Linked DNA regions of Homo sapiens. The gene in region 2 interacts genetically with the main gene of each other region. Each region holds a gene or a part of one and is shown on either strand. Other genes may lie near its edges.

Region 1 (3,500 bases), on a different chromosome or scaffold from region 2:
ATTCTATTATAAAGTAGGTCTACCATAAAGTAGGTCTTCCATGTACCACAGGTAGATATTTAATTTTATTTGCAGGCTTTCAGGAGCCTGAACCCTGCGTTTTTTGGATAGTGAACTGATTCCTGCTTTTTTTGGATAGTGAACTGATTTTCTTTTTTTTTTAAAGAATTCAGAGAATTATACAGTTTACTTTTGGCCCAGTAATTCCACTTTTAGAAAAATATAGATGTGTATGAATATATTCAATGTGGCAACAGTTATATTAGCCCCTCCTCCAGTTAGTTTAATATGTTAACCTCATCCATTCCGTGAAATACACTGCTAATCATTATGAAAACGCTTTCTGATAACATTTCATACATTTAAAAAAATACTAGGATAGCTTGTAAACAAAATATATACAATGCGTTATAATTTCAACTTGGTCAAAACACACTCAAACTCACATTTACACACAAACACATACACAGAAAGAAAGAGAGAAGAAAAAAAAAAGGCTGCAAGGAAATACATCCAAAATGTTAACTGCAGTATTCAAGGGTGTTTGGATTACAGGCAACTTTTCAGAATTTGGAAGAAAGTCATGTAAGCTACTTGGCAATCAGAAAATGAATCAATAAATGTTACTTATTTAGAACAACAGGCAAACTTCATTAACATTTGAGGGTTTTTTCGTCTCACAAGTATATCCCCTCTCCTAAATTCTGGACTTGCATTTTCAACTGCCTCCTCAACATACCGTTTGGATATGAGATAGGCCTCTAAATTTATGTCTAAAATCAAATACTCAATTTCTCCCCCAAATTTCCTCCTTCCCTAAACTCTTTCCCATCTCAGCAAGTGATAATTTCACGAATCCAGTGGCTTCAGCCAAAACCCTTGAAATCATAGTGGACTATTTTTCTCACATCCCACGTTCATTGTGTCACCAAATCTCATGATGTTGGTTTTTAAAATGTGCCCAAATCTGATCATTTCTTACCACCTTAAGTGTCACCAGCCTAGTCTGCTAACTGGTCTCCCTGCTTCATACTTCCCCGCTACAGCCTTTTCTCAACACAGCACTAGCGTGAGTCTTTTAAAATGAAGTCAGTCATATTGCTCTGCTCGAAATACTCCAATGGCTTCCCATATCCCATGTCACTTAGGAAAAATTCAAAGCTTTTGCCTTGGCTTAGACAGCCCTTGGCCATCTTTCTCCTCTCACTGTTCTCCCTGCTCCCTCTCACACATTGGTTCCATATCAAGGTATTTGCACTCACTGGTCCTTTGTTCTTGAATGTTCTTCTCTCACATATGCATATGGATTCCTTCTTCACTCAGTCAGTTCTCTGGGTCCAGTACAGTCTCCTCAGAGAGGCCCTGTCTTTAACCATTCCATCTAAAAGTAGTCCTCTTTCTGCCACATTCTATCTGGTTACTCTGCTTTGCTCTTCGTCCTTGCATTTTTACCTCCTTTCATAACATTTATGAAATATGTTCACTTTCTGGCTCCCCCACTAGAAAGTAATCTTCATAAGAGTGACTTTCTCTGTTTTGTTCAAGGCTCTGTTTTGTTCAATCACTGTAGGTGCTCAATAAATATTTAATAAATGACCAAAAAATGAAAAAAGTACACAATAAAATTTTGAGGGACCAATCATCTAGCCAGCCAACTAGCCATCAGCAAAATCTGATGCAATCATACTTTGACACCACTGGAGAAAGAACGAAACATTGGGGGATAAAGGGTTAGTTTCCTCTGGCCCACACTTAAGCTCTGTCCTCCCTGGGCAGGAAGTAGTTAGTAAACAGTAGTCACTGCCAAGGTTTCCTTTTCACTGTCCCCTTCATTTCACCATAAACAGTAGACCCAACCTGAGCTAGAAGGATCTTAGAAACCACCCGTTAATCCAACCCGTTACTTCAAAGGAGAGATGATTTCAGCTACAGAAGTCAAGGTCAAATCCAAGACCAAATGTTTCTGTGCTTCATCCATTGCTCCATGGAAAGGTAGTGATGGGGGTAGTGGGGGAAGGAACAGTATTAACAGCCAACACTAATTGAACTCTTACCATGTGGCAAGAAATGTTCCACATGCTGTACATGTCTTAACTCATTTATTCTTTCCTGTAACTCTAAGAGATGGGTTCTACTTATCTCCATTTTACTGCTGAGAAAACTAAGGAACAGGCAAGTTTAGCAACTTGCTCAAGTCTACCCAGTAAATGGCAGAGTGGATATTTGAACCCAGGCCATCTGGTACCAGTCTATGAGCTAAAACCAAATCCATATTATCTCATATATAATGAAATGGTGTGTGCTATTGTTAATGACATTAAAAACTTTTTATCCCCATGGTATAATTAAAAAACTAACACTTCAATTTACAGTCTGTCTCTCTGTCCTGAATGTGTCTAGCAAGCAGCATTTTAATACCTACTATTTCTGCCAAAACTCGGTAAACAGGCTCTCTGTTCTTTCTTGGAGGAACAAAGGGAAAGATTTTAAGCCAAATTTGGACAAAACCAACAGCACTTTGCCTACAGCAGTTTCTCAACCTTGCACCCAGAGCCTCGATTCATGTCAGAAAATCTTTCAGTAAACCAGTGAAAGATCCAGATGTGGGAAAGAAATATAAACAAGGCACTGCCTTCCCTTCACCTGCAGACAGAGAAGAACCAAGAGTGATGGGATTTCACACTAAGAGGATGCTCGTGGGTGAAGAGTTTAAACTTCTTGGAGGAAAATTTGGCAGAAACTATCCAAAACTTGAGAATAGTACTTAATGCTGGACCCAGCAATTCCACTTTTAAGAATCTATCCTTAGAAATGCATCTAAAGATTTGTCTCTGTCACTCATAAAATTGTTTATAGGAGAGAAAAACTGGGAAGATTCTGAAAGTCCATTAGAATTCTGATCAACTGCATATATTGTTATTGACTTAATATAAATTATTGCATATCTATTTGATGGACTATCACATAGCCACTGATGATGACATCATGTAGTCACTGAAAATGGGGTTAAAAAGCATATTACGAAGTATTTAATATACCATGTCCCATTAAAAAAAAAAACAGTTTTTGTACAGGAAAAAGCCTAGCAAGATGTTAAGATTATTGATAATTTGCTTCCCTTTGTGTTTTTCTGTATTTTACATTTTTTTTAAATGACTGTATAACACTATGATCAGTTTTAAAATAGTAATTATAAATACTGGGTGGGGAGAGTGGTATGAAATGAAGACATGATTGCTGCTTTTACAGCTTGCTAAAGAAAGTGTTCACCTTGTCTGAAAATGCAAGTGTTTGGAATGGCAGTAGTCCAAATTTGAGTCCTTGCACAGGTGAAAGACTCGAATTTCTACCCACTCATGAGATCCTAGCAATTATTTTCTATAGCTTTATACATCTTACCAGAGGACATCTGTCCTGGAGCAGTAGTTTTATACTACTTAAATTTTAAGATCTATTCTGCAGATGTTTGATTCAAATCTTTTTCAGAATAATAAAAACTA
Region 2 (3,500 bases):
GAGTGTGAAGTTTAACCTCCCAGAGCTGCAGGTTCCTTATCTGTAATGTGGAAATAAAATGGCACGCACCTCAGAGCCTTGTTAGATAAAAGACAAGGCAGTAGGAAGTCTTGATACGGTGCCTCGATGGGTTATCAGTAGCTCATCCTCATATTTCTAGTTACGTCTGTGCTGGAGGATGCCTTTGTCTGCTGCTTTTCCTCCCACCATCTATCCTTGCAGAGTTTCTAAGCACAACCCTCTTCGCCCGTGGGGCCCCAGTCAGGTCATCCAGATGGGTCTGGTGGGGTTGGAGAGGGTGTGTGTGTTGTGGGTGCACACCTGCCTGCTGCTTTTGGAAGCCGATCGAACTCCTTGCTTCCCTTAACCTGCTGCTTGCTCACCTGGAGCTGTGGCCTAGCGGGGCTGACGGCTGTGGGGCCCCCTCCTGGATGTGCCTTTGGCTGCGCTGCCCTGTCCCAACTGTGCTGCTTGGCTGTGCTGGCCCGGCTGGGCCGTGGTGGTGCTGTTCTAACGCTTGCAGTTGTCTTGCAGCCTTTTGCTCCTGTGAGGAAAGGGTTGTGGCCTGGCCCCGCCCAGGGCTCGGGTTAGGATGAGCCCAAGCTCAACCCAAGCTCTCCCTTACCCTGGTGGCAGCCCCTGCTGGTAGTGGCATTCCCTATAAGAGAAGCCCATGCCGGCAGGACATCACCAGCTGTCCCTTGGCTTTGGATGGGTTGGGGAGGAGGCCTCTGGAGGGCACCACCTCTGCCTGCCTGTCAGTCTGAGCCCTGTCTGGTTTTCCTGAGGAACACGTCCTGGCAATGAGAGCTGGTGTGAAATGTGCAGCTTTCCCAAGCCTCGAGAGGTAAATGGAGCAGCCTCTCTGGTACAGGCTGTCCCAAGTTTTTACAGTTCTGGGATCATTTCTCCCAGAAAAGCCCTGTGGAGTTGAGCAGTGGGAAGCATCCATCCTAGGGTTCTGATGGTCCTTTGGCACCCCAGCCCTAGCTGGATTCTGCTGTCAGGCTACCTGTCACCCAGGGCTGGGTCCTGGCCACTGAATGAGGGCTACGAGTGGGGGTGGTGATTGAGACCTGACTGAGCCCCTTCAGGTGAGAGAAGTAAATTGGGGGTGGAAGCGGCCTTATTGGGAGATGCTTGTGAGAGAGGCTGCTCATACAGGGGAGGGGCTCACAGCATTCACGATGTACCAGGCTCCTCACCTGTTAAAGGCAAGCGTGTTTTCTGCAACCTGGTTGTTGATGGAAAGGGAGGCAAAGGCCAAAGAACCATAACTAATGGCTGGGCTTCAGGAGAAAGTGGTCATTGTCTCTGCAGACTGCAGAGAGGGAGACGGGAGGGAAGGTGTGTTCGCTCTTCCTGCCAAGGGCCCTAGAGACAGAGAAGAGGGATGTCTTTGTCATAAGCGATCACAGGGGACTCCTGAGGACTGGGGAGGGCTCTCTGTAACTTGGGAGGTTCCCCAGTAGGTAAATTGATGGATTTTTCTCCCCCACAGTGCGAAAACAGGAGATCATTAAGATTACAGAACAGCTGATTGAAGCCATCAACAATGGGGACTTTGAGGCCTACACGTAAGTAGAGACCCATTTTTTTTTGTGACCTAAGTCATCTCCCAAGGCCTTCCCTGCTTCCAGACAACAATTAGGACCCTGGGGAAAGGGAGGTTGGACCTTGGGCAAAGTATCTGAGTTAAGCCCTCTCCTAAACTGGGAGCCCTTCCAGGTAGATTCCCTGAGCTCACCCATGGTATCCTGGCAGTGGGCCGAAAGCACAGGGCTGAGTGGCTCAGCAGGCAGGCCTGGAAGATCTTTGCTGTCTTGTCTGGCATGGCCACAGGTAGCCTGCTGCTACTGGATAGACACCGCTGATAAGGAAGGAAGACAAGTCACTCCATAGAAGCCTGATAGGCTGCTTTTTTTTTTCTCCCTGTAGGAAGATTTGTGATCCAGGCCTCACTTCCTTTGAGCCTGAGGCCCTTGGTAACCTCGTGGAGGGGATGGATTTCCATAAGTTTTACTTTGAGAATCGTGAGTGGGTTCGTGCTGCTGATATACTCCTGCCTGCCCCTTTACCCCTTTGTCTCTGTCTCCTGCTCACCTTCTCATCCCAGTTGCCCACTTTTCCCTTATTTGACCTTCGTGCTGCACTCCTACTCTGTATGCTTGTCCCCTTGTGCCCCGATGGTTGTAGACAGGCACCTTTGAAGGCCCTGCTCCTGAGCTCCAAGTGCCATTCATTCTGCAGCTGCTTTGTGGCAGTGCCAGTCACCACAATCAAGCTCACTTATTTCTTGCCGGGCGCGGTGGCTTACGCCTGTAATCCCAACACTTTGGGAGGCTGAGGCTGGCGGATCACGAGGTCAGGAGATCGAGGCCATCCTGGCTAACACGGTGAAACCCCATCTCTACTAAAAATACAAAAAATTAGCCGGGCGTGGTGGCGGTGCCTGTAGTCCCAGCTACTCGGGTGGCTGAGGCAGGAGAATGATGTGAACCTGGGAGGCAGAGCTTGCAGTGAGCCAAGATCAGGCCACTGCACTCCAGCCTGGGCAACAGAGCAAGACTCCATCTCAAAAAAAAAGAAAAAATTATTTAAGCCTCACCTCTTTCCAAGACGGATTGGAAGGAAACCCTTTGAGATTAGGTTGAGATGATCTCAGCACATAAGAACTAAGCTCTGTGTCTGCAGGTTTCACAATAGAGGAAATTAAAACCAGGATAAGAATGTGCAAACCAGGGCACTGTTGGTGATTTGCGAGATCGGAAGTTGTGGCTAGAATCTTCCTGACTATGGAGGAAGGCAGACGTCTTGTATAGGGGGTGGGGTGTACATTCTGGACAGTTCATGGAAAATAAGGGGATAAGAAGCTGAATCATCACCCCCTCCCATCTTTCTCTCTGCTCTATGAGACCCTCCCCTTCCTTATTTTTATCTCTTCCCACTTTATGCTGGGCCTTCCCTATCCTGCCCTGAGTTATAGTTAGTCACTAACTTCTCCGCTGGCTCCCACCCTTATCACATCTCAGCTACATATATAAACTCTCTGTTATCTAAGTAATTCTATTAGCCAGAAGCAATTCCAGAGTTTATATTAGTACTAGGAAGGTGTCATGTAGCCCCTGTCTAACATTTGAATTGAACTAAAATGTGAATCTCAATAAAAGCAACACAGTTTTCACAGCATATGCTGATAATGGCAATCCAACTTCTTTTGCCTTTTCCCCAGAGAATCCTGGGAATATCCTGAGCTTGGTGCTTTGATGATTCTATTTCAGCTTTGGTGCCTTAAAAAAAATTACAAATCAATTTTGAATGGTTTAAGTTCATGATTTTGTTCTGCAGCCCTAGCTAGGGGTGAGCCAAGCCTTATGAAATCTAAACTCAGCCTAACAGAATAGAAAATCTATAGGCTTTAGTTAAGAGTCACATGGTCCTGAGTTCAGGTGTGTGATTTGAGCAAATTATTCCTTGAGCCTATTTCCTCATCTTATAAT

What was found. Genes that interact genetically often act in the same process or in processes that back each other up.
Region 1: changes in CAMK2G (region 2) and SKP2 together harm fitness more than expected from each alone (negative genetic interaction), as found in Homo sapiens cells (one large-scale study listed by BioGRID).

Annotation. Positions count from the first base shown.
Region 1 is NC_000005.10:36,172,611-36,176,110, reverse strand, and holds part of SKP2 (S-phase kinase-associated protein 2), read right to left. Parts: intron 1-3,500. UniProt on the Homo sapiens protein: Substrate recognition component of a SCF (SKP1-CUL1-F-box protein) E3 ubiquitin-protein ligase complex which mediates the ubiquitination and subsequent proteasomal degradation of target proteins involved in cell cycle progression, signal transduction and transcription.
Region 2 is NC_000010.11:73,815,556-73,819,055, reverse strand, and holds part of CAMK2G (calcium/calmodulin-dependent protein kinase type II subunit gamma), read left to right. Parts: intron 1-160; exon of another isoform or gene 161-788; coding exon of another isoform or gene 789-847; intron 848-1,501; coding exon 1,502-1,577; intron 1,578-1,938; coding exon 1,939-2,033; coding exon of another isoform or gene 2,034-2,347; exon of another isoform or gene 2,348-3,189; intron 3,190-3,500.